2 separate regions of the Homo sapiens genome follow, and region 2 is linked to region 1. The links come from fine-mapping of genetic effects on plasma protein levels. Region 1 holds a variant in brackets. A gene starts in the other region. All regions are shown on their reverse strands.

Region 1 (5,384 bases):
TTCTCAGGCCACGCAAGGCTCTTCCTGCGTGGCCATCCTCCCATCCCATCTCTGTCTGTGCTTCCAGAGTCCACGATTCCCCGCAGCCCCACTGTGGTGAAGGGGGTGGCAGGAGGCTCTGTGGCCGTGCTCTGCCCCTACAACCGTAAGGAAAGCAAAAGCATCAAGTACTGGTGTCTCTGGGAAGGGGCCCAGAATGGCCGCTGCCCCCTGCTGGTGGACAGCGAGGGGTGGGTTAAGGCCCAGTACGAGGGCCGCCTCTCCCTGCTGGAGGAGCCAGGCAACGGCACCTTCACTGTCATCCTCAACCAGCTCACCAGCCGGGACGCCGGCTTCTACTGGTGTCTGACCAACGGCGATACTCTCTGGAGGACCACCGTGGAGATCAAGATTATCGAAGGTAGGAGTTGACAGGGAGGGAGAAAGCTCTAAAACCTCTCCAGCCAGCAGCAGCATCCCCAACCACTCTTCCTCCTTTTTCACCCGCCTCCACCCTGATGGGCCAGACCTCAGGAGGGAGCCCACCTATCCAGAGGTCACATTTTCATGCCTATAACACGCACCTTACACTCTGAATTACCATACATGGTACCTCCTACTACCAAGAACATGGGCTTCTTTCGCAGTGTGCAGGCATCAGCTGAAGTCAAGGATTGCAGATACCTCTTTGTATTGAGTCTAGAAGAGAAGGAAGAGTGAGGAAAGCAAACTGAAGTCCATGTGTGAAGATCTATGGTCTATGGTAGACTCTGGATTGATCATGGTGCTCATCAATAATAATTATTACCTAGGCACACAATTACATTTCTTCTGTAGTCAGAATAACATACTTATTTCTAATGCTATCCAAAGAGGATATGTAGACTGAACATGGTGGTGCATGCCTGTAATCTCAGCACCTTGGGAGGCCAAGACAGGAAGATTGCTTGAGCCCAGGAGATGGAGGCTGCAGTGAGCTATGATCGCACCACTACCCTCCAGCCTGGGTGACAGAGAGAGACCTTGTCTCAAAAACAAAAACAAAAATATATATATATATGTATATGACATGTGGACAAAGATTCCCACCAGAGTCACTTCCCTGCAGCATCTCCAAGTACCAACTTCTGTGTTTATTTCTACCTCCCTCCCTCCTCCAGGAGAACCAAACCTCAAGGTACCAGGGAATGTCACGGCTGTGCTGGGAGAGACTCTCAAGGTCCCCTGTCACTTTCCATGCAAATTCTCCTCGTACGAGAAATACTGGTGCAAGTGGAATAACACGGGCTGCCAGGCCCTGCCCAGCCAAGACGAAGGCCCCAGCAAGGCCTTCGTGAACTGTGACGAGAACAGCCGGCTTGTCTCCCTGACCCTGAACCTGGTGACCAGGGCTGATGAGGGCTGGTACTGGTGTGGAGTGAAGCAGGGCCACTTCTATGGAGAGACTGCAGCCGTCTATGTGGCAGTTGAAGAGAGGAAGGCAGCGGGTGAGTCTCCAAGGACAGGGCCTGCACCCCTCAGACCCAGAGGCAGGACTTCCTGAAGGCCCCTGCCTGAGAGCTTCTCAATCAGTGCTGGCCCCTATGTTTGGCTGTAAGAGGCTGAAAGTGGAGAGTGGGAAGGGAGGGGACATTTAGGTCCTATATAGCCTCGTTGAGCCCTTCAAAAGGGACATCTCAAATAAACATACCAACTAAGTAAAAATAGTGGGTTTGCTATTTAACCTCGGCATTAAGACAACTCCCAGCTGAATGTGGTGGCTCACACCTGTAATCCCAGCACTTTGGGAGGCCGAGGTAGGCAGATCACTTGAGGCCAGGAGTTCAACACCAGCCTGGCTGACATGGAGAAAACTCGTCTCTACTAAAAATACAAAAATTAGCTGGGCATGGTGGTGTAATCCCAGCTATTTGGGTGGCTGAGGCATGAGAATTGCTTGAACCCAAGAGGCAGGGGTTGCAGTGAACTGAGATCGTGCCACCACACTCTAGCCTAGGCAACAGAGCTAGATTCCATTTCAAAAAAAAAAAAAAGACAAGTCCCATAGTTGCCACTTCAACCCAGATTGAAGTCTCTTCTATATCTGGAAATATTCTTCTCTGTATAGAAGAATAATATGCATACATCACTGTCATATGCAATATGTTCATCCCCCTTCCCCCTGCCAAAGCTCGCCCTCGAAAGAGGGCCAGATACCTTCATTTACAAGGTCTGATCAGGAAAATTAGGAAACATCTAGTAAATTTGCATTTCAAGTCCCCTTTTAAAATTTCACATGAAATGTTTTAGCCCTAATAAGGGTATTTGTAGTCCCTCAAGAAATCCTATTGGGTCTGGACCCTGCGGATGGGACTCACTGAGGGGCCCATCGCCAGGCTACCTCCAGGGGGCAGCACTATCATACCCAGCTGGGCAGTCAGGAAGCCTGGGGCAGCGTCTCAGAGCCTTGAAAATCTCCCGGGCATAAGTGATGGGTCAGCCTTTATGCACAGCTGGTCTATGACACGAAGCCTTGAAGGTCCCCACTATACTTTTGGTAGTAATGGGGCAGAGATCATCTGTGACAGCTGAAGAAGGCCATCACAGCTGTTTCTAATGTCATCCTGGGTCCTACCCCAACAGCCTTGAGATCGAACCCTGACCCTGTGATTCCTCATGAAGTCTCCCCCAGACTCCTTCACCTCGAGGAGTAAGAGCATAGAGAAAAATCACAACCCAGGCCCACTCTTCCCTGCTGCAGGGTCCCGCGATGTCAGCCTAGCGAAGGCAGACGCTGCTCCTGATGAGAAGGTGCTAGACTCTGGTTTTCGGGAGATTGAGAACAAAGCCATTCAGGATCCCAGGCTTTTTGCAGAGGAAAAGGCGGTGGCAGATACAAGAGATCAAGCCGATGGGAGCAGAGCATCTGTGGATTCCGGCAGGTAAGGAAGGATTCAAGGCTCCCCACTCGGAGAACACCCCAGAGCCGAGCACCTGAGGCTGGGCCACCAGGTCCAAGGAGGAAAGCCCATCTGTCTCTTGAGCACTGGGGCAGCCCTTACTACCTCTGCTTATATGTGGGAGGGTCCTATGGTACCCTCTGCCCTTCTCCCATGGCTGGGGAGGTGTTTACAATTCAGTTCAATCTTCCAGGCCTAGGATGCAACAAGGCCCAGTGCGTGCCTTTGCCAGTCTGGGAAGGCTTCTTAGAAGAACAGAGCTAGGGAGCTGCATCAGCAGGGTGGGGTGGATAAACCTGGGAGGAAAAAGGACTAAGCCAACCTTGCCAGCACATCGTCGGGCCCCCAGATCTCCCTTCCAGGGATGAACTAACTTAAGCCTTCTTCCAGCTCTGAGGAACAAGGTGGAAGCTCCAGAGCGCTGGTCTCCACCCTGGTGCCCCTGGGCCTGGTGCTGGCAGTGGGAGCCGTGGCTGTGGGGGTGGCCAGAGCCCGGCACAGGAAGAACGTCGGTGAGTCCCTGGGATACTCCCTGCCTCCCACCTCCAACCCGAGCCCTCAGTCCTGAATCATCCACCCATAGAGGAAGCTGCTGTGTCTCTTCTTTTTCATGAGCTAAAACAAAGGATCCCGAGAAAGCAGGATGGGGAAAGATAAACCCACACATACTC[G/A]AAACTGAAATTCAGAGCTGCTGTCCAAATACTAACACTGGAAAATCATCTCCAATTACCCAGGATCTAGGTTCAGAGACAGGGCTGCCAGGAAGAGGAGATTGGGTTTCAGGAGACCCTGGGCTTGGACTAATTGGATAACTAATGAGCTGTGTGACATTGAGCCATCCTTATGCCATGCCTCAGTTTCCTCATGGCTCAAGTCAAGGATGATAATCAGGACCTCACGGGGCTGATGTGAGGACCAAAGGAGATGCTGTGCATTGAAAGGTCCCAGAGTGACAAAGATCAGGGATTACCAAGTCCTGATTACCCAGGAAAAGGGACTGGGGAGGAGACTCGGATCATTTCCATCCCCCTGGGTCATAGTCAGAGCTGCACCACCTCAGCTGTCCTGCAGGGCTACAGTGGATCCGCCCAGAGAGAAGCAGCCCAGCCTGGCCTTCTAGGTCCCAGCCCCTGTCCTTACACCAACTCCTCTTCCTCCCGGACAGACCGAGTTTCAATCAGAAGCTACAGGACAGACATTAGCATGTCAGACTTCGAGAACTCCAGGGAATTTGGAGCCAATGACAACATGGGAGCCTCTTCGATCACTCAGGAGACATCCCTCGGAGGAAAAGAAGGTATGACCCTCACTCAAGGGAATGCTCAGCCCCTGGGGAGAGTAAGAATTGGTCTCACATCTGGGTTGGGAAAAGGAGGCTAGTAAGGGCTAACCTACCCTCTTTCTTCACACAGAGTTTGTTGCCACCACTGAGAGCACCACAGAGACCAAAGAACCCAAGAAGGCAAAAAGGGTGAGGAGGAAGAAGGAAGCCCCACTACATGACAAAGAAATGCAGCATGAGGGGATGCAGTTAGACTTCAGAAAGAACTACCTCAACATGGGGGCCGATCCCAGAATAGGGAGGATGATATAAATAGTCCTCAGGAGTCCTCAGGACTTTTTGAGGAAGAACTATATCTTACTGGTTGTGGGATGCTGATGTGGATAAGGCCCAGGAAGGAGGTGAGCTATATGATTAGGCTGTAAAACTGCAGGAGAGAGGCAGGCCAGGAGATGAGGAAAGCAGGTGCATAAAAGATGGGAAGCTACAATGCCAAATGCTGGTGATTAAATGGATGCTCTTCCTGGGTTGGGGGACCCAAGGACCTCAGGCCACACATCCTCCCTTGAGGGTTTGCTCAGGACCAGCTTTTTGCCTGGGCCTAGGAGACATTTGCTTGCGGTGGGCAGTTTGAGGCTAGAAGCCCCTGCTCACTTCTCTTGAAGCCCCACCAGAGGCAACTCCTGCCTTGGGTGCCATATACCATCCCCTCAATCTGCCCTAGGACTCAGGGGACCAAGAAAAATAACATCTCATGCCTTTAATCCCGAGGTGAGAGTTTTTGTTGTTGTTGTTGTTGTTTTTATCATATCTACTTTTTCTTGAAACATCTCTGGCATTTAGCAAAGTTAGAACGAGTTATTCCTGGGACAGCCTTCCCCTTTAACTTTGTGGTGCCAAAAAGCTACCTGTCTGGGCTGGTGGAGAAAGAAAAACATACACCACCGTGGTTGACCCCAGCCTAGGCCACCTTGCCCGTGGACTGTGTGGGCAGCTTCCGGGGACAGGCCCGGGCAACAGAGGCGGTTCCACTCCGTGTGTCAGAAGGAGGTAGTGAGACAGAAGAAGATATTTTTAGAGGCTGCAACTTTCCATTTCTCAAAATGCGTCCTTCTTGGTGAGCATGGGGGCTGGGATGAGAACAGTGGGCCCCAAAGGCTTGTGTTGCTTGGACCAAGATCACG
Region 2 (5,384 bases), not on the chromosome of region 1:
TTATACTGATTTCCACTAGAAATCAGTGATGTAGAATATTTCATCCTAGACAGGCATTTGTGAATGGAATCCTATGCCACAGTGTAGCAGGCTAATCCTCCAAACTACTAAACCAATCTAAGAATAACAAACTCTGAATTCTAGATCTGTGGCCACTACTATTCGCGAGTCTTTTAAAAGAACTAGGGGTAGTAAGTGGAAAATGCTTAAGGATACATATGATGTGTGTTGCCCTGAAAAAGTGAAATTTAATGTGGTCGTGTTTCTAACTATTGAGAAATACCTCTAAGGATTTGTGGTATAAATTGTTTTCATTACTAAAGCATAAAATTAAATGAAAGAATTAGAAAATACCTTCTGGTTATTTTAGCATTAAGTATATGATTAAAGCCTGAGATTACTGATTGGTATAATGAATTGCAGTAGGTATTAATCTCTGGCATGTTTATGGGTTTCAATATTAACCACATCTGGTCTGAGCAAAATGAAAAAGCATCATTTGTCTTGATGTCTCACTTCTCATCGTTCCTTATTCTGGAGATTCTTTGTCATCAGTTGGACCTCCCACCTAACTACCAGAGCTGGCCCCTCAGAGGCCACTGCTTTTGCAGAACCTTGTTTTCGTCCTTCTGTGAAAAGCTGGATATGTCCTAAGGAATCATTATTGACATTGTGGCTCTTAAATCCCTTAAAGTGACCTAAAGGCCATAAGGTACACGGTGAAATAGATTCCTTTTTAAAATAGGAACAGGATTATTTTAGTTCTGTCTCTGTCCCTAAGATTTTAGGTTTGAATGCTTTCTTTCAGGAAAGGTTAATATCTATTTTGCCACTTAAACGAACATACCAGCCCACCAACTGTCCACAGAGATGCACATATGATCTCCAGATTCATAGCCACAGTTTGTCCTTCGGGTTGGATCAGCTAATCTGCCTGGAGGAGAGAGGATGCACAGTCGTATTTATTATACGCATTTTGAAACTGGCTGTAACTATTGCTTAACCACATAGATTTTGTTTGTAGATACAAAAGCATTTATTTCTGAATGATATGTGTTTGTATTCCCATCATTCTTTTTTTATCTTTTATTTTTTAGTTTCTAATTTCTTTCCTTTTCCTTAACAACACAGTTTTCTACTTTTGAGTTATAGGTCCTAAATATTATTTACTTTTGTAAGGATACTCTCTTCTATTTCCTCCTCTACCTTCTAATCGAAACTATGAAGCAATATGCATACAGATGAAAAGAGATGGTCGAGAGTCAAAACAAACCCCTGCTCTACCACTTACTAGCTTGACTTTATCTAAATAACCTCTAATGCCTTAGTTTTCTCATCTATGACATGGGGATAATAATATTAACTACATTATAAGGTTGTGATGTGAGGTGAGAAAAAGCACCAAAGGTGTTTCACCTGTAATATGCATTATGTAAATATTAGAAAATAATCATTGTTTTTCTTCCAAATGAAATTGCTCTTTTCTTAACCTCTCTCTCACACACAATAATTTCTTTATTGGCTGTGTCATCAGCAGGGAGTGGGCAACAGGCACCACTCTTTCTCATGAGCTTCTATCAACCAGAACAAAAGTATCTTTCAATTCATGTATATTTTATCCCAAAATGTAACTTCTGTCTATACACTGTAAGGTACCTTATTTCCAAGAGGAAGCAAACATTTTACAGAGAAAGATCTTCATGAACAATGTGATGCTTCTTTATAACCTCATATCATAATTAGAACTTCAAGAAATTCAAACTAATTGGACATCACTTTGTATATCCCCTTGACTGTTTTGTTCATCTCATTGCTTAGAAAGGAGTGTGGCACTTAGTAGAACTTCAACAAATATTTGTGAAATGCTCAATAGATGAGATGTGATGTCTTTTCACAGTTGATAACTATGTCTTATGCCTCATTGAAGCTTCTAATAATAACACACAACCCACAAAAGAAGGATTTGTGGATAAGGAGAAGGATAGGTAGAAAAACAATGATTATAAGGGAAAAGAGAACAAGATAAAGAATCAATTTTTAAAAACATAGTAGGGTATATACAGAGTCCAATTTCCCAAATACTTCATAGGTCTATCGGTAGATCATTACAATGAAAACAAGAGTCATTCTTACCTGTCCTATATTGCCAGCCATACTGCAGAGGCAACCCCCATAAAATATTCTGTTCATTATCTGGTGCAAATTTTGCAAAATACCTGGCTGTCTGATTCAATATGATTTTATACATCCCCATTCTCTCAAGGTATACCCAGGGATTAATAATGTACATGCTGTTCTCCACCCTGTAGTCACTGAGCTGACCAGGACTCTCCTTCCACAGAGGGGGCTCTGTCTCTGAGAGATTGGAAGTCCCTGCTAAGGAAGCAGAAAAGGAACCAACTAGTACACAAACCCAGGAAGGAAGAAAAGCCATTGTGCCAGAGCTGGGGATTGCGATCGTAGCAGGGCTTTTATTGGAGAATGGAAGAGGAAGTCATGATATTTGCTAACCTCACAGCATATCAACACTTTGCTTTTTTGTTTTCCTGGATAGGGTGAAAATGTAGAAGAAATTGATGTATTAGCTAACATTTAGGACAATTAAATTTCCCAGACTCTTCAGCGTCAGAATACTGTGTCAGAACCTAAATACAAGGTTAGGCTTGTTTATAATGTATTAGATAAAACTATTTATCAACAAAAACCTTCCAGAAGTTTCCCAGGCTGCATTGTGATTACAAAATACATCACAAATGGCTTTAGAATGCTTCCCTCTAATAAAAATACTTTAACATATTTCATGGAAAATATTAAATAGCTGGAGATGGAAATACTAGGATTTATAATAATCTTCAAATGTGTACTAAAAATATGTGTGATCCAGTTGTAATACAATGTTCTGCTTCAAGAAAGAAGCTTAAAGAATATCTAATTAGCTCAATTCAATAATGAAAGTCAGCCTGCTGGAACAAAACCTGCTAGTTAATTCTTAATATCTATTTTTCATTCTTTATTAGTAAAAGAATCGTAGAATTTTAGCTGGGAATATGGTCTCCCAGAATTAAGGCTAAATTTCCAATTTGCTTTACACAAGCAACCATGTGACTAAGTGTGGACCACAGAGACATAAATAGAAATAGTATCCACAATTTCTGGAACATGTCCTAAAATGAAGGGCACATGTCAATTCCTCTTCCCTTCCTCCATGTTGTGGCTTGGATTATTGATGTGATGATTGAAATTCAATTCTGACCCCTAAACGCAAGGCACTATCTTAGGGATGACAGAATGCAAAGCTGGAGGTGGCTTGAGTCCCAGAGGGCTGTGGAGCCATGAGATGTCCTTGAATTCCTATATCTGAGTTTTACCTGAGCAAGAAACACCCCACTCTCTTGTTTCAACCACTGTTATTGAAGTTTTATTCACACATAGTAAAAATTCTTGCCTTATTAATAGGTAATGCATCTGAAAATCTCAATTATTTACACAATTAGATGCATATGCTTCATAGTAGGTCACTGGTACTGCTTGTTCCTGGCATGGTCCACATTAAACATCCTACAGCATGATTCCACTCTTTTTTCCTGTCATATTATTTACCCAATAGCCATTTGATAATTAATAAATTTTCCAGATATATTAATATAAAAGGGAATGGTAGGAATTGCTACTATAGATCAAGAATGCAATCATTCTGGAAATTTTAAAAGTATATTAAATGTTTATAAGAATATATACGTGAATATGTACTGTAAGATGTGTTACTCTAAAACCAAATGCCAGATTGTTCTCAATGGAGAAATCTTAAGAGCACTCCTTTAAGGTCAGAAATAAAATAAAAATGACCACCAGCATTATAATCATTTAACTTTTCTTTGAGGATACCAAACAATAAAGTTAGTAAAGATAAATAAATTAGAGGTATAAAATTGAGAATGAAGATGTGCTAGTACTTTCCCTTATAGATGATATGACAGTGTTCAGAAAACATAAGAGAATAAACTAGAAGGGTAACTACAAAGAAAAAATTTACTAAAGTGGTTAAGAACTAAATTACTATATATAAATCAATAGCTTTTATATATAAAAGCAATTGGGAAATATAATAGGTGAAAATGGAAGAAAAGTCCTCATTTTATTGTCAACAAAAGGGCCAACATATAAATGTATAATTATGGTAGATCTGTTTGGAAAAATCTCTAAGACTACAAAAAAATTGAACAGTTTTAAAGTCATACAATGTTTCTCAATAGACTCAACATTATCAACATGTTAATTTATAAATTTGTACAATAAATGAGAAATATTAACAGGATTTTTAGATGTGCTTTCTGGAAAGATTTTTAGGACTGAGGCTAAAATTTGCCTAAAAAATAAATTATGAAGAAAATACAAAAACTCTAATAATAATGGATAATAATAGTGAAAGGAAACTTTCCATAACAGATATTAGAAGATTATTATAAGCCCTCAAAAATTAAAGTAACACACCACAGTCATTGATGTAATAGTGTGACCAGTTACAGGTTAAATAAAACAGAAATATTGAACTATATTAGAGAAAGATTTTAAATGAAGACCAAAATACAAATGAGAATTTAAAGAGGAGCTATACTGGAACTAGATCTAGACATTGCTTCTATGTCCACTAGTGGAGTAGTTATTGGAATCCCATATACAGTGGGAAAAAAGTAAGAGCACATCTTGATGGAAAGATATTTGTTAAGGATATAAAAGAAATAATGTCAATAGTAGAATCTGGATCTTCTCATGCAAAAATTATTAATAGAAGAGGAAATAAGTTAGACGCTTACAAATAAACCTCAAATGAACATCAAACATATCACGGCATGCACTGATAGTTACATAACGTGATATTCACTCTTCTCTTATTTCTTTGTAAGAACACCCTTAATCCTTAGCACAACAGAGTCTTCCTGGAATAGAGATTATATTATTTAGTCTCACTGCTAGATGTAGCTACTTGATAAAGCTGTGGCCAAATTGTTAAGTTGCAGCTTTCAAGGAATCTCCTTTATACCTTGTCCTTTATTCTTTGTTATTTCTTCCTCTGCTGGCTGGAATGTAAATGTAACTAGAGACTGATGCTGTCTTAGATTATGAAGGAGCAAGAAAAGGTAGGAGAACAATAAAATAGAAGACTTTTGGTTTCTAGTCTCTACAGCTCTAGATTGTCTACTTCTGATTGCTGTCTCTATGAAAGAAATAAAATTTTAACTTAAGGCAATTTTTTTTTATGGATTTGTACTGCTTGGAGAACCTAATCTGAACAGACATTCTAATTTTGTCTTTCAACATTTCTGTGCCCATTTTTTCTTAACTATAAAGTAGAAATAGTTTTACTGCTCCTAAATCCACTAATT

Alleles and levels. Positions count from the first base shown, and alleles are read on the strand shown. Strength reflects both the effect of a copy and how common the allele is.
For the plasma level of the protein whose gene starts at base 2,446 in region 2, allele G in region 1 goes with a lower level than allele A (moderate association).

Evidence for each region. A credible set is the group of variants that fine-mapping cannot tell apart. PIP is the chance, under the fine-mapping model, that this variant and not a neighbour inherited with it causes the effect. The UK Biobank Pharma Proteomics Project read protein levels with antibody pairs (Olink). The fine-mapping took linkage between variants from a reference panel, not from the people measured, so its PIPs are less certain.
Region 2: it holds the start of C6orf58, and the variant in region 1 is the best candidate, but not a certain one, in a credible set for the plasma level of the C6orf58 protein (UK Biobank, PIP 0.55).

What each region holds. Positions count from the first base shown.
Region 1 is chr1:206,930,502-206,935,885 of GRCh38, reverse strand. It overlaps PIGR (polymeric immunoglobulin receptor), which reads left to right. Exons shown (of 11, transcript NM_002644.4): 5 at 68-400; 6 at 1,140-1,466; 7 at 2,720-2,900; 8 at 3,309-3,430; 9 at 4,084-4,215; 10 at 4,331-4,389. Among named protein-coding and RNA genes, the nearest start is that of FCMR, 11 kb to the right of the region's middle. RefSeq lists enhancers at 4,855-5,384, 5,048-5,384. The variant G/A (reference allele first, on the strand shown) is at 3,590.
Region 2 is chr6:127,574,236-127,579,619 of GRCh38, reverse strand. It overlaps C6orf58 (chromosome 6 open reading frame 58), which reads right to left and starts at 2,446. Exons shown (of 6, transcript NM_001010905.3): 1 at 2,134-2,446; 2 at 848-934. The coding sequence starts at 2,434.